Homo sapiens: one gene and its partners. The protein of the gene in region 1 purifies or fractionates together with the protein of each later gene. This does not show direct contact. Each region holds a gene or a part of one and is shown in the gene's direction. Other genes may lie near its edges.

Region 1 (7,107 bases):
CTAGTTTTTGTGTTTTTAGTAGAGGTTTTTTTTTTTTTTTTTTTTTTTTTTGAGACAGAGTCATGCTCTATCACCCAGGCTGGAATGCAGTGGTGCGATCTCAGCTCACTGCAACCTCCACCTCACGAGTTCAAGCGATTCTTCTGCCTCAGCCTCCCCAGTAGCTGGGATTACAGGCGCGCACTGCCATGTCCAGCTAATTTTTTGTATTTTTAGTAGAGATGAGGTTTTGCCATGTTTGCGAGGCTGGTCTCCGACTCCTGGCCTCAAGTGATCTGCCCACCTCGGCCTCCCAAAGTGCTAGGATTACAGGTGTGAGCCACTGTGCCTGGCCAGTATGTCAGTTTTTTAATTGAACTTGTACTTTCATTTCCACACAGAATATTATCCTAATGCAATATATTTAATGCTTGAAAATGTTATTCATTAGCCTACCATATTCTTCTGCAAGTAAAATTAATATAATAATTTAAACTTTTCAATTTTGTTGAGACTGAAACTTTTAATATTTTGTTTGAGATTATTATAATTATCTGTACACACTTGATAAAAGTAAATGCATTACACAGTTTTTGAGTAATTATACAAAAGTAAACATTTTTTGAAACATGAGATCTCAGTAGGATGTCACCCCCCACCCCCATCTGGATGGATAATACTGTCAGAATAAGACAAGTTCAGTACCACTTCTACTTTTTGTTTTTATGTACATGAATTCTGAGAAACTGTGTTCTCTTAAATAGTAGTTGGAGATGGGGTTATTTTTAAAATTTTAAATTTCTATTATAGATGGGATCTTACTATGTTGCCCAGTCTTATCTTGAACTCTTGGACTCAAGCAATCTTCCCACCTCAGCCTCTGAGTATCTGGGACACAGGTGCTCACCACCACTGTGCCTGGCACAGCGGGAGTTTTGGTAGAGCAGCATCACTGAATATTTTGATCTTCTTTTGGTTTATAAACCCAACGTCATGCAGTGATCTTTTATCAAAATTTTTGATGATGTTTCGGCTGACTGTTGATTACATCTGCATTCCGTTTCGTTGCAAGCAGAGATGTGGAAACTGCTGAACTGTAAAATAGCCTCTTATTGCCAGGTGATTCTGATGTAGTTGGCCTGGTGTAGGACCAAGGCATTAAGCTTTCTGAGCTCCCCAGGTGGGTTTGCTGTGGGTTAAGAACTGTGGTCATATCGTGTTTGTCCCCAAAAGCAGCTTCTGAATCATTTCCAGCCTGTGCCTTGCCTGCTTAAGATCCTCCAGAGGCCTTCTATTGTCTGTATCATAGTATGTCTCTACTAATCTGCAGTTTTAATCTGGGGTCATGAAGACTTTCCAAGGCCTGCGTAGTCCTGGAGGAGTCTGTTTCCAGGTCCTCCACTGTCTCATGTGCTCATTCCTGAAACCAGCCTCCCCGTGAACATGCTGGGAATGGGTGTGTGGGTTTTCCTTTCCCACCTCCCTCACTCAGTTGCCCTTCTGCTCTGAGGTCAGCCTCCCAACAGCCTGGTCTTTCTTCAGGGTGTTGTCCCCAGGTGCAGAAAACTCCTGGGCACCAAAGAGACCATTTGAAATCTGGTTTCTGGGCTGACTTTTGTACATGTGAGATATTTTTTTTTAAAGTTTTCAAATATATGAGGGCTATTTTAGTTATCTTTTAAAATTGTTTATTATTGTTAGATAGCTGATGGAATTGCATCATGGTCAGATTTTTTGGACGCGTTCTGTTTGTGCTTATGAATGTGGATTCTCTACTTGTTGACTACAGTGTGCCACGTAGGTTCTTTAGGTCAAACTTGCTTTCTGAGCTTCCCAGGTGGGTCTGCTGTGCAGCCAGGGTTAAGATTGAGTTCGGATCTTCTCTAGCTTTCCTCATGTTTTTGTCTGCTTGCTTTTATAAGTTACTAAGAGAGCTTTGTTAAAAATTTCTGTGTATGGCTGGGCAAGGTGACACGTGCCTGTAAGTGTCAGCTACTGGGGAGGCTGAGGCAGGAGGATTGCTTGAGTCAAGGAGTTCAAAACCAGCCCAGGCAGCATAGTAAGACCCCATCTCAAAAAAAAAAAAAGTGTTAAAAAAATTTCTGTATATGGATTTGTCTGCATCTTTGTAGTTCTGTCAGTTTCTGTTTTATATGTTTTGAGGCCAAATTAGGTACATACAAAAACTTAGATTTATTATATCTGTAGGTAAATGGAATCTTTTATCATTAAGAAGAACCCCTTTTTACATTTTGTTATGGGTATAGCTATAGAAGCTTGCTTTTTTTAAAAAAAAAACAACAACCGGTAATCAATTTATTAAAATAGTCAACTTTAAATATCTGCAATGGTGACTTCCACCTCAACTCCTGGCTCAATACTGATGGAAGTAATCTGCTTAATCTCAGAAGGACTGTGGAGGTCAGTGAGCCACTTGTGGATTCTCATCTGGAAACGATCCCGTGTGTTAGAACCTTCACAAGGAGTTTTTCTTGTGGTGATTCTCGAAGCCTTGATAGGCGTTCCAGCTGGTCTTTTCACTTTGAGATTCTTTTCCTTTGCTCCTCTGATCAAGTCAGCACACACCTTTTCTGGGGATTCTATGTTGCAGCTCATTAAAGTGATTCAGATTCAGTGAATTGTCACCTCTGGCTCCGCAGGTTTTCTTCAGGTATCTTTAAAGCCGTGGGTGGGCCGGGTGCGGTGGCTCACGCCTGTAATCCCAGCACTTTGGGAGGCCGAGGCAGGCAGATCACCTGAGGTCGGGAGTTCGAGACCATCCTGGCCAACACGGTGAAACCCCGTCTCTATTAAAAATACAAAAATTAGCTGGGTGTGGTGGCGGGCGCTTGTAGTCCCAGTTACTCTGGAGGCTGAGGCAGGAGAATTGCTTGAACCTGGGAGGCAGAAGTAGCAGAGAGCTGAGATTATGCCACTGCACTCCAGCCTGGGCGACAGAGCGAGACTGTCTCAAAAAATAAATAAATAAATAAATAAATAAATAAATAAATAAATAAATAAATGCATGCCATGGCTGCTGCGAGCCTTCCTGACCAACTTGTTCCTCAGCCAGAGCAAACAGTGGTGAGGCAGGAGCAGGAGCGGGCAGACCACAGCTCTGCAGCGCCTGTGGCCCTGTCTTCCTGAAGGAGCAGAAGCTTGCTTTTGGTTAGTGTTTGCATGATACATTTTTCCTGTCCTTTTACTTTTTCCCATTTCTTTATGTTTTAGCGTTTTCTCTTATAAATGGTATATTACTAGGCTTCAGGGGTGTTGTTTTTATGTTGTAAATGCATATAACATAAAATTTACCACTTTAACCCTTTTTACCTTTAAATCCATTAATTTATGAAACTATTTTCTTCAGTAGGCTACACATTGACATTGAAAGAGTGGCTTTTTTTTTTTTTTTTTTTTTTTAGACAGGGTCTTAATCTGTCACCTAGGCTGGAATGCAATGGTGTAATCACGGCTCACTGCAGCCTCGGTCTCCTGGGTGTGATCCTCCCACCTCAGCCTCCTGAGTAGCTGGGACTACAGGCGCACACCACCATGCCTGGCTAATTTTTTTTTTTTTTTTTTGGTAGAAGTAGGGTTTCACCATGTTGACTAGGCTGGTCGTGAACTCTGGGCTCAAGCAGTCCACCCACCTTGCCCTCCCAGAGTGCTGGGATTACAGGCATGAGCCACTGCGCCCAGCCTGACAATGGCATTTAAAAGATGTCATGGCTATGTAAAAAAATGTTTCCACTGTTGTACGTACACATCTGCACATGCAAGAAAATTTCTCAAATCTTTCTTCCTTTTCTTTTCTCTTCTCTTCTTTCTCTTCTTTTCTTTTCTTTTCTTTTTTTGAGACAGGGTCTCACTCTGTTGCCCAGGCTGGAGTGCAGTGGCGCGATCTCGGCTCACCACAACCTCTGCCTCCCGGGTTCAAGTGATTTTCCTGCCTCAGCCTCCCTAGTAGCTGGGACTACAGGCGCCCGCCACCGCACCCGGCTAATTTTTGTATTTTTAGTAGGACGAGGTTTCACCATGTTGGCCAGGCTTGGTCTTGAGCTCCTGACCTCAGGTGATCTGCCTGCCTCGGCCTCCCAAAGTGCTGGGATTACAGGTGTGAGCCACTGCATCTGGTCAAATTTCTCAAATATTTCTATTGTGATAAAATGTATGTAACACAGGCTGGGCGCGGTGGCTCACGCCTATAATCCCAGCACTTTGGGAGACCGAGGTAGGTGGATCACGAGGTCAGGAGATCAAGACCATCCTGGCCAACATGGTGAAACCCCGTCTCTACTAAAAATACAACTAATTAGCTGGTCATGGTGGCGTGTTCCTGTAATCCCAGCTACTCAGGAGGCTGAGGCAGGAGAATTGAACCAGGGAGGCAGAGGTTGCAGTGAGCTGAGATCACGCCACTGCACTCCACCCTGGCGACAGAGCAAGACTCTGTCTCAAAAAAAAAAAAAAAAAAAAAAGTAACAAAGCGTACCATTTTAACCAGTTTTTAAAATTAAAAAAAAATTTTTTTTTTTTTAGAGATGGGGGGGGTCTCACTTTGTCACGGAGGCTGGAGTGCAGTGGTGCAATCCTAGCTCATTGCAGCCTCGAACTCCTGGAGTCCAGTGATCCTCCTGCTTAGTGTCCTGAGTAGCTGGGATTACAAGGCATGTGCTATTGTGCCTGGCTAATTTTTTTTTTTTTAATTTTTTGTAGAGCTGGGGTCTCACTATGCTGCCCCGGGCTGGTCTCGAACTCCTGGCCTCAAGCAATCCTCCTGCCTTGGCCTCCCAAAGTGCTGGGATTACAGGCGTGAGCTACTGCGCCTGGCCCATTTTAACCATTTTTAAGTGTACAGGTCAGTGGCATTAAGTGCATTCACATTGCTGTGTAGCCATCACCACCGTCTGTCTCCAGAACTCTTTGCTCATCCCAACTGAAACTCTCTACCCATTTAACAATCACTCCCATCCCCACAGTCCCTGGTAACCACCATTCTACCTCATCTCTGTAAATTTGACTATTCTAGGCATCTCACATAAATGATAAATGGAGGCATACAATATTTGTCTTCTTTGACTTATTTTACTGAGCATATGTTGAACGTTCCTCCATACTGTAGTATATGTCAGTACTGCATTCCTTTTTGTTGCTGAGTAATATTCGTGTGTGTGTGTGTGTGTGTGTGTGTGTGTCTAGACCACATTCCGTGTATTCATCTATTCGTAATGGACACTTGGGTTGTTTCCATCTGTTGCCATTGTGAATAGTGCTGCAGTGAACATTGGTATACAAGTATCTGTTTGAATCCTACTTTCAGTTCTTTTGGGTATATACCCAGGAAGTAGAATCTCTGGATCATACGGTCATTCTATTTTTACTTTTTTGAGGACTACCAAACGGTTTTCTGTAGCAACTGCACCATTTTATATTCCCACCAGCAATGCACAAGGATTCCAATTTCTCCACATCCTTGCCAACATTTGTTATTATTTATTTATTTATTGAGATGAAGTCTCGCCCTGTCGCCAGGCTGGAGTGCAGTGGCGCGATCTCGGCTCGCTGGAACCTCTGCCTCCCGGGTTCAAGTGATTTTCCTGCCTCAGCCTCCCGAATAGCTGGGACTACAGGTGCCTGCCACCATGCCCAGTTAATTTTTTTAATATTTTTAGTAGAGACAGGGTTTCACCGTGTTAGCCAGGACGGTCTCCATCTCTTGACCTCGTGATCTGCCCGCCTTGGCCTCCCAAAGTGCTGGGACTACAGGCATGAGCCACCGCGCCCGGCCTAGGGTTTTTTAATATATTCTAGATATTAATCCCTTATCAGATATGTGATTTGCAAATATTTTCTCCTATTCTGTGGGTTGTCTTTTCACCCTCTTGATCATGCTCTTTGATGTACAAAAATTTTAGTTTTAGTGAAGTACAATTTATCTTTTTTTTTTTTTTGTCTGTGCTTTTGGTGCTATATCCAAGAAATCTTTACTAAATCCAGTGTCATGAACATTTTTTCCCTAGATTTTCTTCTAAGAGTTTTAAAGGGTTTTTTTGTTGGTTTGTTTATTGTTTTTTGAGGCAGGGTCTCATTTTATTGCCTAGGCCGGAGTGCAGTGGCGTGAACACGGCTCACTGCAGCCTTGACCTCTCCAGCTCAAGTGATCCTCCTGCCTCAGCCCCACAAGTAGCTGGGACTACAGGCATGCGCAGTCAGGCCCAGCTAATTTTTGTATTTTTTTGTAGAGACAGGTTTTCACCGTGTTGCCTGGGCTAGTCTTGAACTTCTGCGCTCTGGTGATCCACCTGCCTCAGCCTCCCAAAGTGTTTCAGATTACAGGTGTGAGCCACTGCAACCGGCCAGGTTTGAGCTCTTAAGTTTAGATCTCTGATCTTTATATACTTATTATTATTTTTTTTTATAGAGATGGAGTCTTGCTGTGTTGCCCAGGCTGGTCTTGAACTCCTTGGCTCAAGCAAACCTCCCATGATGGCCTCCCAAGGTGCTGGGACTACAGGTATGAGCTACTGCACCTGGCCTCTTTACTTTTCAAATTAAACTTTTTATTTTGACATAATTATAAATTCACATGCCGTTGCAGGAAATAATACAGAGATCCTAGGTGCCCTTGGGTTTTGTTTTTTTATTTAGCATTTAGTCCATTTACATTTAATGAAATATGATACATTTGGGTTTAATCTGCTATCTTACTCTATATATTCAAATTGCCTATTCTCTGTTCATTTTTCTCTCTAGTCTTCTTTTAGGTTAATTTTTATTATCCTATTTTTCCTCTTCTATTAGCTTGAAAGTTATATGCTCTTTTCTCAGTTTTAAGTGGTCACCCTAGAATTTAAAGCAGGCATTCATGTTGTACCAAAGACTAATGATAATGTGTACTTTACCTTCTTCCTGGACAGTGCAAGGATCCTAACACACTTTAACTCCATTTATTGTTGTCATTTGTTTTAATTATTTCTGTTTTAAATCACACAACCCATTGTTTTGTGCAGTCAGATATTTAGATTTTCACCCTTATAGTCACTGTATTTGTTGTTCTTCGTTCCTTCTGGAATCTGACTTTACATCTGGATGGGGATCATTTTCTTTCTCCCTGAAGAATGAAAGTGT
Region 2 (7,107 bases), on another chromosome or scaffold:
TAGTCTATAGCATTTCCCTCACTCCCCTCCTTTCCCCATACACTTACCCATTGAAGAAACTCTCATTTTGTTCCGTAGCATTTTCTGCACTGGCAGATTTGGCCAACTCATCATGATGGCATCGTTCAGCATTCCTCTGTCCCCCATGTTTCCTGTGAGCCGGGAGCTAGGTCTAGAGCCTTAATTAGATCCAGGTCCAGATTATTTATTTATTTATTTTTTGTATTTATAATAAATAATCTAGACAGGTCCAGATTTTTTGGCAAGAATAATTTATAGTGCTTTATATATTTCCTATATTTATATCACAAATCATATGATATTATAAAATAGTGATGCTGAGATTAATTAGTGGGTTCACATAATGGTTTTATAACCAGTGATTGTGGTTGCCTGGCTCCATTATGTCATTAGTGGGTTGCAGAATAGAGATACCCTAATTTTGTCTTTTCTTTTTTTTTTTTTTACATTTATTAGCTATGATTTTTTTTTTTTTCAGAATAGCTATCCTAGCAATCTCTATAAGTGACCAGTGATTTTTTTTTTTTTAGTATCATTTTGAACTCAGGGTTTTTTATATATTTGTATTTCATTCCATTATAGTCATGCTTTTTGCTGCCAAATTCATCCCATCTTTGGATAGTAGGAGTCCCTTCAAATTGGCTCCTGTGCCTCTTTTACAAGAATTTTAGGTTTTTGATCACTTTTGCTTCCAGGCATAGGATGTCCCAGGTTCAATTTGTAATTTTCTTGCTTAAAACCTGGAATCTGGCCAGGCACAGTGGCTCATGCCTGTAATCCCAACACTTTAGGAGGCTGAGGTGGGCGGATCACTTGAGGTCAGGAGTTTGAGACCAGCCTGACCCACATGGCGAAACTCCGTCTCTACTGAAAATTCAAAAATTAGCTGGGTGTGGTGGCACGCGCCTGTAATCCCAGCTACTTGGGAGGCTGAGGCAGGAGAATCGCTTGAAGCCAGGAGGTGGAGGTTGCAGTGAGCCAAGATTGCACTGCACTCCAGCCTGGGTGACAAGAGTGTGACAAGAGTGAAACTCCGTCTCAAAAAAAAAAAAAAAAAACCCTGGAATTAGTTACTTCTCCAAGAAGCTCTGATTTCTTTAGTGGGGAAAGTGAATTGTGGAGTGCTTATTGCTATCATGTTGCCATTGTTTCTAGGTCTTTTTAGTGGAAATAGCTAGGAAATAGGCATTTTTTTAGGAGACAAAAATAGTAAGTTTATCCTGATAATTTCCAGTTTAAATAAAAAATGGTACAATATTTTTACTTAATTTTCGATTTTGTATTTCTATCTTTTTGTATCCCCCAAAAAGATACATTTGTACCCAAAAAGGTACATTGTACCCAAAAAGATACATTAGTGACATTAAAATTCTTATTTGCAGCTGGTCTGATGGTAGTGGGTTATCAGGACTTATTAACATTAGTGTCACTGAAGTTGGTATACAACCCCCCACGCTAAGTTTGACTGGCTTTAAAAATAATAATAAATAGGTCGGGCACGGTGGCTCACGCCTGTAATCCCAGCAGTTTTGGAGGCCGAGGTGGGCGGATCACAAGGTCAGGAGATCAAGACCATCCTGGCTAACACAGTGAAACCCCGTCTCTATTAAAAAATACAAAAAATTAGCCGGGTGTGGTGGCGGGTGCCTGTAGTTCTGGCTACTCAGGAGACTGAGGCAGAAGAATGGTGTGAACCCAGGAGGCGGAGCTTGCAGTGAGCCAAGATCGGGCCACTGTAATCCAGCCTGGGCGACAGAGCGATACTCCGTTTCAAAAATAATAATAATAATAAATAATTTAAAAATTAAAATTAGAGAAAAGAAAGAAAAATATTTTTCAAAAATTTTATTATTTGCTTTCTCCTACAGAATGTACTTTGTAGTAGTGACATTAAAAGACATTAAAATTATTTGCTATACAGTGATATTAAAATTGTTTGCTGTAGTAACATTAAAATTGTAGTGACATTAAAACTATTATTTGCTTTATCCTACGGAATGTACTTAATAGTATCAAAATAACAATGCTCTTGTTATTGCCAATAACACTATTTCTTTTTGCTTCTTTATATAATTTTTTTCTTAATGCTTTTAAAATTTTTTTATACTTTATTTTTATTTTTTAGTTTTTTAATAGAGATGAGGTCTTGCTATGTTGCCCAGCCTGGTCTTAAACTCCTGCTCTCGAGTGATCCTCTTGCCTCAGCTTTCCAAAGCTAAGAATTTTTTTGAAGAGCATAATTTGACCCTCAGTTTCTAAGAAGTAGGAATGGTAATGGGATGCATAGCCTGCCATGTGGCTGTTGGATGGACCAGAAAACCTTATACTCTAGGGCCTATAGGAATATCAAGTATTTTTATTGATTTCCCCTGGTATGTAAGCAGCAGCTTATGGGATCAGTGTGATGGTTAAGGAAAATTACTCAAAGCCCATGTTCAGGGCCAGGTGCAGTGGCTCATACTAATAATCCTAACACTTTGGGAGCCTGAGGCGGGAGGATTGCTTGAGCCCAAGAGTTCAAGAACAGCCTGGGCAACTTTGTGAGACTTCATGTCTACAAAAAATAAAAATACATTAGTCTAGTGTAGGGGCTCACACGAGTGATAAGTAGTGAAGCTAGGATTTGAACCCAGGGTTCAATCTCCAGATTCCAAGCCTTTGTGTCTGGCTCCAGATTCCAAGCCTTTCATCACTACACTGTGCTGCTGCTTATAGGAGATAGTCTCACTCTGTTGCCCAGGCTAGAGTTCAGTGGCACAATCTCAGCTCACTGCAACCTCTGTCTCCCAGGTTCAAGCGTTTCTTGTGCCTCAGCCTCCTGAGTAGCTGAGATTGCAGGCGTGAGCCACCGCGCCCAGCCTTAAACTGAAAATTATCCACTACATGGTAGAAGCACCATATAATGTAATGGTTTCTACAGTCTTTAATTATGATAATACAGATATCTCAAAGTAAGTTCTTACCTTGTATAGACTCAGCCAATTTTTTTAAAACCACACAATCCTATTTATACTTTCAAAGCCTTTTTCTTACCATTAATATTAAAAAGGAATTGGACTCTCTTTAGTGTGTGTACATCTGGAATGAAAGTCTTCATCAAATTAAATGGAGCCCCTTTGATATTAGATAACAGTGCCGACATGAGCAGGGTTCACCTTAGTTCAGAATTACCAGCTCTGTCTGGGAGAACTGGAATACATATTAATAGTAACTTACCTGCCAGGAGTTTATGTCACTCTTAAAATCCTGTAGCCTATAGAGGAGATTCCTGTCAGTCCGGTTTTCACATGCTGATAGAATTAATTGAGTTTAACATTATAAATACTGTCCTCTTCTCTTTTAACAGTGCATGACTCCTGATCAGCTGATGACATTATGCAAAGCAGGCATTCATAGTAGTAATGTCGGGGTTAGAGTGAATGTCGTTAGCATTTTAGGAATCACTGGCAGCGTCCTTGCCAAAGAAGATGGTACACTTGAAACTCTTAAGGTAAAACAATTTGCTTCTGACCTAACATGTTAAATAATTAGAAATGGGAGAAGAACTGTTGGTGTAGGATTTCTTAAAACTTGTGTGGACTTGAAGAGAAGAAGTCATATCAAGTTGCTTTATTGAGTCATATTATTAGAATATACCCTTTGGCTTGATCTAACTATGTGTATTAATTAGGTAAGTATTTGAAAAGTTGAGCCACATTTTACAATTTAACGTTATTCCAGAGGTACTTTTTTAAAAAAATAAATCTGTCTTTAGTGAAAGGGCAAATTCAGAATTTTTAAAGATGCCTTCTGCCTTTGCTGTTGCATCCAATGTATGCATGTTACATTCTCCTGCTGATGAATGAACAATCCACACCATTTTCCTTGCACACCAGGCAACATGCATTCTGAAAAATACAACACAGTTAATTAATTCTAATACCACTCCATAAATTTTAAGCAGCAACCCTGGTAGTGCCAATATACTAGCAATTCCCTCAGCATATTTGCTCTTACCACTTAGCACAGTTGCTCACAAACTGCACTGTTAGGAGTACAGCGTCACTAGTAATTAAAAGGACAGTCATAGTAACATTACACTTTGGTGTGCTAATAATTGCTGAAGTGTGAGACTAGTGGATAATAAACTCATTATTATAAAGTACCTCTTAACCTGCTAAGAACTTTACAATGATGACTGATGTTTTTAAGAATCTATTTTTGAAAAATGATACTTGCAAAGCTTTTTTTTTTTTCTTTTTTTTTCTGAGATGGAGTCTCAGTCACCCAGGCTGGAGTACAGTAGTGCAGTAGTGTGATCTCGGCTCACTGCAACCTCCGCCTCTGGGTTCAAGCAATTCTTCTGCCTCAGCCTCCCGAGTAGCTGGGATTACAGGTGCCCACTACCACACCTGGCTAATTTTTGTATTTTTAATAGAGATGGGGTTTCGCCATGTTGGCCAAGCTGGTCTTGAACTCCTGGGCTCAAGCGATCTACCTACTTCAGCATCCCAGAGTGCTGGGATTACAGGCATGAGCCACTGCACCCGGCAACAGTTATTTCTTAGTGTGTCTAATTCCTGGTCCATATTCATAATTTTACAGTTGCCTCAAAATTATCTGTTTACAGAGAGCTTGTTTACACTGCTGAAGTCCACATGTTATGTTTCCTGTGGGGTCTTCTCTTTCTCTCTTAATCTTGAACAGTTCCTCCCCGGCACCACGTGGTTATTCTCACCTCCTGGATCAGTTGTCCAATATAGTGTCCAAAACCTTCTGGATTTGTCTGATTGCTACCTTGTGGTGGTAAATTTGTTTTTTTATCCTTGTATTTCCTACAAACTGACAGTTAGATCTACAGACTAGATTCGATTCAGATCAGTCCTATTTTACGTTTTTTAGAGATGAGGTCTTGCTCCATTGCCGAGGCTGGTCTTGAACTCCTGGGCTCGAGCGACCCTCCCGCCTTAGCCTCACAAAGTTCTGAACTTACAGGTGTGAGCCACTTGCAACTGGCCTAAAGTGTTTTTCTTATGCTTTTAAAAGCAGATTTTTTGTTGTTGTCGTTGTTGTTACAGATAATATTTCTATGCATCTTGACATCATGGAGAAATCCTTTTTGAGAGAGGTAGAGGGGAAAATTTAGTGATTTCCAAAATCATACATCATTTATGGATTTTAATTCACTTTATTTATGAATATAAACTATAATATGTTTAATTTATCTTGCTTATACTTGGTATGTTTATAAGTATTTAAGTCTAATCTCTTGAAGTTTTAATTTTTCCCTGGCATTTGTATATAAAATAGTATGCATGAGTTATTGCCACATTCAAAGTTGGTACTTGTTTTGGAGACTGGTGTTAGTCATACTAAATGTGTTTTGTTGTTTCCAGAACATTGGGTGCTTTCTGCTTGAAGTTACCACCAAAGATCCTTCCCTTGTGGTAGCAGGAGAAGCTTTGGATGCCCTCTTTGATGTTTTTGCAGATGGTAAAGAAGCCGAAAGAGCCTCGATTCAAATTAAATTATTATCTGCTCTGAAAGAATTCCAGCCGGTCTTTAAAATGAAGGTTTGTAGCCATTTAACTTATAAATACATAAGTCTGAACATTCTGTGGGGACAAGGGTGTGTGTAGTTACCGCTGTGCAACTCAGAAGCATGTGCATGACGAATCCCCATATGTAGCACAGCATCCCCAGTACTTTGTAAAATGTTCGTTGACTGAGTCATAGCTCAACAGTGTGACTACTGAATCATTGAAACTGAAGCTAAAATGGTATCTGACAAGTTCTTCTTTTTTTAAGTTTAGTAATTTTGACAATGCTTCATATATGTCAGTATTATACTCTGTATTTTGCAAAGCACTTTCATACACATTTTGCATTTATTTAATTTTACTTTTTTTTGTTTTTTTGAGACAGAATCTCACTCTGTCGCCCATGCTGGAGTGCAGTGGTGCGATCTTGGCTCACTGCGACCTCCCCTTCCCCAGTTCAAGTGATTCTTGTGCCTCAGCCTCCCAAGTAGCTGGGATTACAGGTGTCCACCACATCACCCAAATAATTTTTGTATTTTTAGTAGAAACGGGGATTCGCCTTGTCATCCAGGCTGGTCTCGAACTCCCAACCTCAGGTGATCTGCCCACCTTGGCCTCCCAAAGTGCTGGGATTACAGGTGTGAGCCACTGTGCCCAGCCATATTGTTCTTAAAGGTTACAGTCCTTTAAATTTCTGGATAAAGAGCTTGCAAGATAAGAAAAAAATATCCCCTATTTCCCTGCAGCTTCAAGGAAAGCAGATATATTAATAGTTAGAGTCATCAAACTCTGCAGAAGCAGGTGCTTAAAAAAGGTTAAACAGTGAACTGGGAAAATAACCCCTGACTTCTGAAAGGTCTTTGTTCTGATTGATTTTCCTACTCAGTATGTATTGCTGTGGTAATAACATTTGTTTTTCTTTTATCAAAGGTATAAAGCTCTAATGAGATTTCTTCCTAGCCAGAGGCTAGCCTGTAGTTATTTATGTGAAACTCTTTTTTTTGCTAAATGAAGCCACAATTTGTGTTAAAGGCTATTCAGTGTATATTTAGCTGCAAAATGCATTTATGTACAATCAAGAACTTCTCTTGAGCAGTGTTTCTCAAAAGTGCCCTCCTTGTATCAGCAGCATCAGCCCTTGCCTGATAACTTATTCAAAATGCAGGTCCTCGGCCCCAACTCCTGACCTACTGAGTCATAGACTCTGTGGATGGGCCCACCAGTCTATTTTTCAACAAGCCTTCCAGATGATACCGTTGCACACTAAAACCTGAGAGCCACTGCTCTAGACTAGAGGTGAGATCAAACTCAGATTCCATACAATTGATATAAAAAACCACAGGCCAGGCGCAGTGGCTCACACCTGTAATCCCAGCACTTTGGGAGCCCCAGGTGGGAGGATCACTCGAGTCCAGGATTTCAAGACCAGCCTGGGAAACATAGCAAGAACTTGTCTCTACAAAAAAATTTTTTTAAGTTAGCCATTAAGTGGTGGCTCATGCCTGTCATCCCAGCTACTCAGGAAGCTGAGCAGGAGGATCGTGTGAGTGCAGGAGTTGGAGGCTAC
Region 3 (7,107 bases), on another chromosome or scaffold:
TCGGGGGTCCTCTGGGTCGGGGCTCCCCTGACCCTTCTCTCTTCCCACAGGGTGCGGGGGGCAATGGCACTGCAGCTCTGGGCCCTGACCCTGCTGGGCCTGCTGGGCGCAGGTGCCAGCCTGAGGCCCCGCAAGCTGGACTTCTTCCGCAGCGAGAAAGAGCTGAACCACCTGGCTGTGGATGAGGCCTCAGGCGTGGTGTACCTGGGGGCGGTGAATGCCCTCTACCAGCTGGATGCGAAGCTGCAGCTGGAGCAGCAGGTGGCCACGGGCCCGGCCCTGGACAACAAGAAGTGCACGCCGCCCATCGAGGCCAGCCAGTGCCATGAGGCTGAGATGACTGACAATGTCAACCAGCTGCTGCTGCTCGACCCTCCCAGGAAGCGCCTGGTGGAGTGCGGCAGCCTCTTCAAGGGCATCTGCGCTCTGCGCGCCCTGAGCAACATCTCCCTCCGCCTGTTCTACGAGGACGGCAGCGGGGAGAAGTCTTTCGTGGCCAGCAATGATGAGGGCGTGGCCACAGTGGGGCTGGTGAGCTCCACGGGTCCTGGTGGTGACCGCGTGCTGTTTGTGGGCAAAGGCAATGGGCCACACGACAACGGCATCATCGTGAGCACTCGGCTGTTGGACCGGACTGACAGCAGGGAGGCCTTTGAAGCCTACACGGACCACGCCACCTACAAGGCCGGCTACCTGTCCACCAACACACAGCAGTTCGTGGCGGCCTTCGAGGACGGCCCCTACGTCTTCTTTGTCTTCAACCAGCAGGACAAGCACCCGGCCCGGAACCGCACGCTGCTGGCACGCATGTGCAGAGAAGACCCCAACTACTACTCCTACCTGGAGATGGACCTGCAGTGCCGGGACCCCGACATCCACGCCGCTGCCTTTGGCACCTGCCTGGCCGCCTCCGTGGCTGCGCCTGGCTCTGGCAGGGTGCTATATGCTGTCTTCAGCAGAGACAGCCGGAGCAGTGGGGGGCCCGGTGCGGGCCTCTGCCTGTTCCCGCTGGACAAGGTGCACGCCAAGATGGAGGCCAACCGCAACGCCTGTTACACAGGCACCCGGGAGGCCCGTGACATCTTCTACAAGCCCTTCCACGGCGATATCCAGTGCGGCGGCCACGCGCCGGTATGGGCCTCAGTGTGTTCTCGCAGGGCCCGGACTGCAGGCGTCCGTTCGTGGGTTTGCGTGTCCCAGCCTGCTGGGGAGGGTGCACGTGAGCAGTGTGGCCGTGGCTCTCGCCAGCCTGGGCGCTTGCGTGGGTGGGTGCCGCATCTCTCAATGCCATTCACGCTGGCGCCAGTCCCAGGCCTGTGTCGGGCACTGGGGAACACAACAGTGAGCACGGTGGGGCTCCCTGCCATGTGGGTTCTGTTCTCGGGGACGTGTGTAGGACGTGTGCCGGAGGGAAGGGAAGGGCCTGTCCCGAGTCTTGGAGCGCGAGTGGAGAGGGCCCTTCAGGACAGGGGGTCTGCCTGCCATTGACACGCTGTGGTCCGCAGGGCTCCAGCAAGAGCTTCCCATGTGGCTCGGAGCACCTGCCCTACCCGCTGGGCAGCCGCGACGGGCTCAGAGGCACAGCCGTGCTGCAGCGTGGAGGCCTGAACCTCACGGCCGTGACGGTCGCCGCCGAGAACAACCACACTGTTGCTTTTCTGGGCACCTCTGATGGCCGGATCCTCAAGGTTTGGCCCAGGCTGGGGCGGGGAGGCTCTGGAGGGCCCGTCTGTGCACAAGGCCCGTACCCTCACCGGCCTGCCCTCGCGCACACAGGTGTACCTCACCCCAGATGGCACCTCCTCAGAGTACGACTCTATCCTTGTGGAGATAAACAAGAGAGTCAAGCGCGACCTGGTACTGTCTGGAGACCTGGGCAGCCTGTACGCCATGACCCAGGACAAGGTGAGCCAGACGCAGCCCCGGAGAGCACTCTAGGCCAAGTGTGCCCGGTCATTGCATCCCAGGCCCTTAGGACAGGCCTGGGGGCCAGAGGAGGATGGGGTGCTGCAGAGCTGGGCCCTTCTCCTTGGTCTGGATGAGGGGTGGCTGGGTGGGTCCCGGGCAGTGCCTCCATCCTGTGTCTCTCTAGCACTGCCCCGTCTCTGCCGCTCCTTCTGTTTGTCCTTTGTGGTCTCAACCATGTCTCTCCCTCTGGCCCCGCCTCTGCCCTGTCCTGATGGAAGGGACCTGGGTTGGTGTCTGAGGCGTGTTGCTGAGGGTGGATGGGAAGACGGGGTCCCTGCACAGCCCATGTGAGCTCAGTCAGTGGAGAACATGGGCCTGGGCCCCAAGCTTGTGGGGGGTTAGTGCCAGAGACCCTCAGGCCAGCCCTAGGAGCACCCCTCGGAGGGAGCCAGTGTAGAGGACAGGAGCTGCCCCGGGAGACACCATAGCCAAGACCTCCAGGCTTCCCTGGGCTCCCATCGGGATCCTGGGCCAGGCATGGCCACCCAGAGCCAGAACTGTTTAATATCAAGCCTGAGGTGTCTGAGGCTCCCGAGGCCCCGGGACAGAGCTGGGTCAAGCTGGCGGTCTGGGGACATCTGGGGTCTGCGGAAGGCCCGTGCGGCCTCTGCTGTGGTCCCACTCACGGCCCCGCTGCCCTAGGTGTTCCGGCTGCCGGTGCAGGAGTGCCTGAGCTACCCGACCTGCACCCAGTGCCGCGACTCCCAGGACCCCTACTGCGGCTGGTGCGTCGTCGAGGGACGGTGAGTGCCTGGGGTGGCTCGGGGACACGGCCTGCCTCTGGGATCCCGGAAGGTCGTGGCCTGGGTCGGGGGGCACATCGCACTGTCCTGTCCCGGGAGAACAAGACTCCACCCTGGGCTGAGGCCGCCCCCTGCGCCTGCAGATGCACCCGGAAGGCCGAGTGTCCGCGGGCCGAGGAGGCCAGCCACTGGCTGTGGAGCCGAAGCAAGTCCTGCGTGGCCGTCACCAGCGCCCAGCCACAGAACATGAGCCGGCGGGCCCAGGGGGAGGTGCGTGGTGGGTCTGGGGTGGGGGTCCTGGGCCCCAGGCCGGGCCAGGTGGGGGCTCCCCCATGCTGGGAGCTGTTGGGACAGGCAGGGGAGGGCTCCACATCTCCCCCGCCTGGGCTCTGGGCACCGAGCCTTAGGGATGGAGCCCGCCCTCCATTGGTCCCCTGGACCCCTATGACCTGGGCGGGCAGGGGTGGGGCTTGTCCATATCCAGGGTGGACTCAGGCCCTGTCCCAGGAGTTGCTGGGGTGACCACAGAGAGGCCTGTATTGGAAGACGTGGAGTCGGGTTCTGGAGGCTCCACTGGGACGTGCGCCCACACACGCAGGGAGGTCGGGTCACCGGCAGGTGGGCTGACAGGACTCGGGGTTCCCAGTGTGAGCGGCACGGCCCCTCCCTCAGGTGCAGCTGACCGTCAGCCCCCTCCCTGCCCTGAGCGAGGAGGACGAGTTGCTGTGCCTTTTTGGGGAGTCGCCGCCACACCCCGCCCGCGTGGAGGGCGAGGCCGTCATCTGCAACTCCCCAAGCAGCATCCCCGTCACACCGCCAGGCCAGGGTGAGGCCCCTTCCCGAGCCCCCGGGTGGCCCTTCTCGGTCGCACGGGGCCCTGTGCACACGGGCTCTCGCCTCTGCTGGCCCCTGGGTGCAGGCTCTGCACAGGCACACTCCGCGGCTGCTCCGGGGGCCCAGCCTGAATGAAGCCTGTGGTGGGGTTGCTGTGCCTGTTGGGGAGGTTCTGGCTTCTTGGGCTGTCCGCAGCCACGCCCCCCAGGCCTGTAGCAAAGGTGACTTGTCTTCAGCCTGCTCCCTCATCACGTCCGGAGCGGCATGTGGGTGCCAGGCGCCAGGCCCCGTCGTCTCGGCAGACGCCCCTCACCCCTTCCTGCCATGTCCAGCTTCAGAGAGCAGGGCCGTTCCCAGAGGCTGCAGGGCCTCGCATGTGGGCCAGGGCAGGCGTCGCGCCCATGTCCCCTGAGTTTTGGGGGCAGTGGGGCCACGCAGTGACGTGGGCAGGGACCTGGCAGGTCCCACTCAGACTCCAAGGAGCCGCTGCCCTCAGTGCCTGCGGGAACAGAGGGTATGAAAGCAACCTGGACCCGGGGGAGAAAGGCAAGCCCGGTGCTGCGCCCGACACCCGAACCAAGATCTGATAGCAGGTGGCAGGTCCAGCCCAGCGTGAACGGGCGTCCTGGCAGCCCCACCCGAGATCTGATAGCAGGTGGCAGGCCCCGCCCAACATGAATGCGGGGCGTCCTGGCAGGGCCCCCTGAAGACCAGGGGTCTCCACCTTGGCCCCAGGAGTCAGCCCCAGGGGAGGCCCAGCCTGGCCCTCGGCCCTGCGGCCGCCACCTTGACACCTCCCCCTCTGCTGTCTGCAGACCACGTGGCCGTGACCATCCAGCTCCTCCTTAGACGAGGCAACATCTTCCTCACGTCCTACCAGTACCCCTTCTACGACTGCCGCCAGGCCATGAGCCTGGAGGAGAACCTGCCGTGAGTGTCTTGTGCCCATCGACCCCACCCTGCCCGTCCACCCCAGCCCTGCTCACGATCCCCTCTGGATGCAGGTGCATCTCCTGCGTGAGCAACCGCTGGACCTGCCAGTGGGACCTGCGCTACCACGAGTGCCGGGAGGCTTCGCCCAACCCTGAGGACGGCATCGTCCGTGCCCACATGGTGAGGGGCCTCGGGGCCTCAGGGGACTGTTCAGGGCATGGCTGCTCCGCTGTGCCCAGGCAGCACCTGACCAGCCTTACTCTCCCAGGAGGACAGCTGTCCCCAGTTCCTGGGACCCAGCCCCCTGGTGATCCCCATGAACCACGAGACAGATGTGAACTTCCAGGGCAAGAACCTGGACACCGTGAAGGTGCGGAGGGAGGGGTGCCGGCTGGTGACAGGCAGGCTCAGGTGCGGAGGGAGGGGTGCCGGCCGGTGACAGGCAGGCTCAGGTACGGAGGGAGGGGTGCCGGCCGGTGACAGGCAGGCTCAGGTGCGGAGGGAGGGGTGCCGGCTGTGACAGGCAGGCTCAGGTGCGGAGGGAGGGGTGCCGGCCGGTGACAGGCAGGCTCAGGTGCGGAGGGAGGGGTGCCGGCTGTGACAGGCAGGCTCAGGTGCGGAGGGAGGGGTGCCGGCCGGTGACAGGCAGGCTCAGGTGCGGAGGGAGGGGTGCCGGCCGGTGACAGGCAGGCTCAGGTACGGAGGGAGGGGGTGCCGGTTGGTGACAGGCAGGCTCAGGTGCGGAGGGAGGGGGTGCCGGCCGGTGACAGGCAGGCTCAGGTGCGGAGGGAGGGGTGCCGGCCGGTGACAGGCAGGCTCAGGTGCGGAGGGAGGGGTGCCGGCCGGTGACAGGCAGGCTCAGGTGCGGAGGGAGGGGGTGCCGGTTGGTGACAGGCAGGCTCAGGTGCGGAGGGAGGGGTGCCGGCCGGTGACAGGCAGGCTCAGGTGCGGAGGGAGGGGGTGCCGGTTGGTGACAGGCAGGCTAAGGTACGGAGGGAGGGGTGCCGGCCAGTGCTGATGGGTGTGTGGGAAGCCTGAGCTCCACCCGTGCCCCCCGACTCGGGGCCCCCACATGAGGTAGAGGGCACAGGATTTATCGGGGACAGAGGCCAGGAGGCAGCACTCGGGGGCCTTTGGATGGGCCTGAAGAGAGGCAGTGGAGGAGGCAGGCGTGTGGAGATTGAGGGGCCAGTGCCACCTCCTGAGGAGGGAGCTGTGGGGGCCACGATGTCAGGTGGGCCGGGCGATGTTCTCAGGTGTGGATGAGTGGTGGAGGTGGCCGTGGGAAACCCACAGAGGACGTTCAGAGGCTTCTGCAGACACAGGTGTTTGGGCTCAGGAGTGGCCGAGGGGTCAGCTGGCATGGTAATCTGAGGGGCGGGCATGTGTGGGGTGAGGAGAGGGCTCCCACACTGTAGGCACAGAGGAGGGGCTGCAGGGGTTCTGGGAGGAGGGCCAGGGTGCCACAGCCGCCTGTCCAGGGTCCTGACGGCATGGTCTGCAGGGTTCCTCCCTGCACGTGGGCAGTGACTTGCTCAAGTTCATGGAGCCGGTGACCATGCAGGAATCTGGGACCTTCGCCTTTCGGACCCCAAAGGTACGGCTCCAGGGCAGGCCGGCTCGGCTGCTGGACCCCAGGGCCCCGGGTGGGGTGGGGGGTCACCTTCAGGACTGTGAGGGGAGGGGCAGCAGGGAGACCCCAGGGACCAGAGCCCAGCCAGGGGCTCGCCATGCCCTGTGCTGCTGGGGAAGCCCCCTCTGCCCTCTGCCTCCCTGGGGACAGAGTGGCACAGAGCAGCGTCCATGGGGTTCCCGAACTTCCGACACCTGAAGGCCTCCCCTGCTGCCCTTGGCTGGGAAGGGACCCGGTGGCCACAGGGAGGCTGCCCTTGTGACCCCCGCCCCACGCCCCTCTGTGGGGGCAGGAAGTGCAGTGTGCCCCTGCGTGTCCCCCAGCTGTCCCACGATGCCAACGAGACGCTGCCCCTGCACCTCTACGTCAAGTCTTACGGCAAGAATATCGACAGCAAGCTCCATGGTGGGGGCCACGGGCGCAGTGGGGGGCGGGCAGGGGACGGGTGGGCACAAGGCGGTGGGTGGGGGGACAGGTGGGCGCAGTGGGGAGCAGGTCGGGGGCGGGCAGGCACGGGGTGACCACTGACGGCAGCTCTCCCCGCAGTGACCCTCTACAACTGCTCCTTTGGCCGCAGCGACTGCAGCCTGTGCCGGGCCGCTAACCCCGACTACAGGTGTGCGTGGTGCGGGGGCCAGAGCAGGTGCGTGTATGAGGCCCTGTGCAACACCACCTCCGAGTGCCCGCCGCCCGTCATCACCAGGGTGAGCCCCTCGAAGCCTGGCCTACACCTTCCCTCGTCCCTGGCATGAGCCCCTCCCTGCTCACCCGGCTCTGTGGTTTCAGATCCAGCCTGAGACGGGCCCCCTGGGTGGGGGCATCCGCATCACCATCCTGGGGTCCAATTTGGGCGTCCAAGCAGGGGACATCCAGAGGATCTCTGTGGCCGGCCGGAACTGCTCCTTTCAGCCGGAACGTTACTCCGTGTCCACCCGGTGAGTGGACGGCCCTGGTCTGGGCCCTGTCAGCTGGGTCAGTACCCACGCTGGGGTTCCG

What was found.
Region 2: the proteins of LMAN2 (region 1) and HEATR3 purify together in Homo sapiens (affinity purification with mass spectrometry; 3 studies listed by BioGRID and IntAct, with this or other methods). This does not show direct contact.
Region 3: the proteins of LMAN2 (region 1) and PLXNB2 purify together in Homo sapiens (affinity purification with mass spectrometry; 3 studies listed by BioGRID and IntAct, with this or other methods). This does not show direct contact.

What each region holds. Positions count from the first base shown.
Region 1 is NC_000005.10:177,341,632-177,348,738, reverse strand, and holds part of LMAN2 (vesicular integral-membrane protein VIP36 precursor), read left to right. Parts: intron 1-7,107. UniProt on the Homo sapiens protein: Plays a role as an intracellular lectin in the early secretory pathway. Interacts with N-acetyl-D-galactosamine and high-mannose type glycans and may also bind to O-linked glycans.
Region 2 is NC_000016.10:50,096,863-50,103,969, forward strand, and holds part of HEATR3 (HEAT repeat-containing protein 3), read left to right. Parts: intron 1-3,367; coding exon 3,368-3,511; intron 3,512-5,396; coding exon 5,397-5,573; intron 5,574-7,107. UniProt on the Homo sapiens protein: Plays a role in ribosome biogenesis and in nuclear import of the 60S ribosomal protein L5/large ribosomal subunit protein uL18 (RPL5). Required for proper erythrocyte maturation.
Region 3 is NC_000022.11:50,283,541-50,290,647, reverse strand, and holds part of PLXNB2 (plexin-B2 isoform 3 precursor), read left to right. Parts: intron 1-50; coding exon of another isoform or gene 51-63; coding exon 64-1,131; intron 1,132-1,505; coding exon 1,506-1,688; intron 1,689-1,776; coding exon 1,777-1,905; intron 1,906-2,610; coding exon 2,611-2,711; intron 2,712-2,854; coding exon 2,855-2,981; intron 2,982-3,383; coding exon 3,384-3,537; intron 3,538-4,360; coding exon 4,361-4,475; intron 4,476-4,549; coding exon 4,550-4,658; intron 4,659-4,746; coding exon 4,747-4,848; intron 4,849-5,734; coding exon of another isoform or gene 5,735-5,803; intron 5,804-5,982; coding exon 5,983-6,075; intron 6,076-6,434; coding exon 6,435-6,516; intron 6,517-6,657; coding exon 6,658-6,815; intron 6,816-6,897; coding exon 6,898-7,046; intron 7,047-7,107.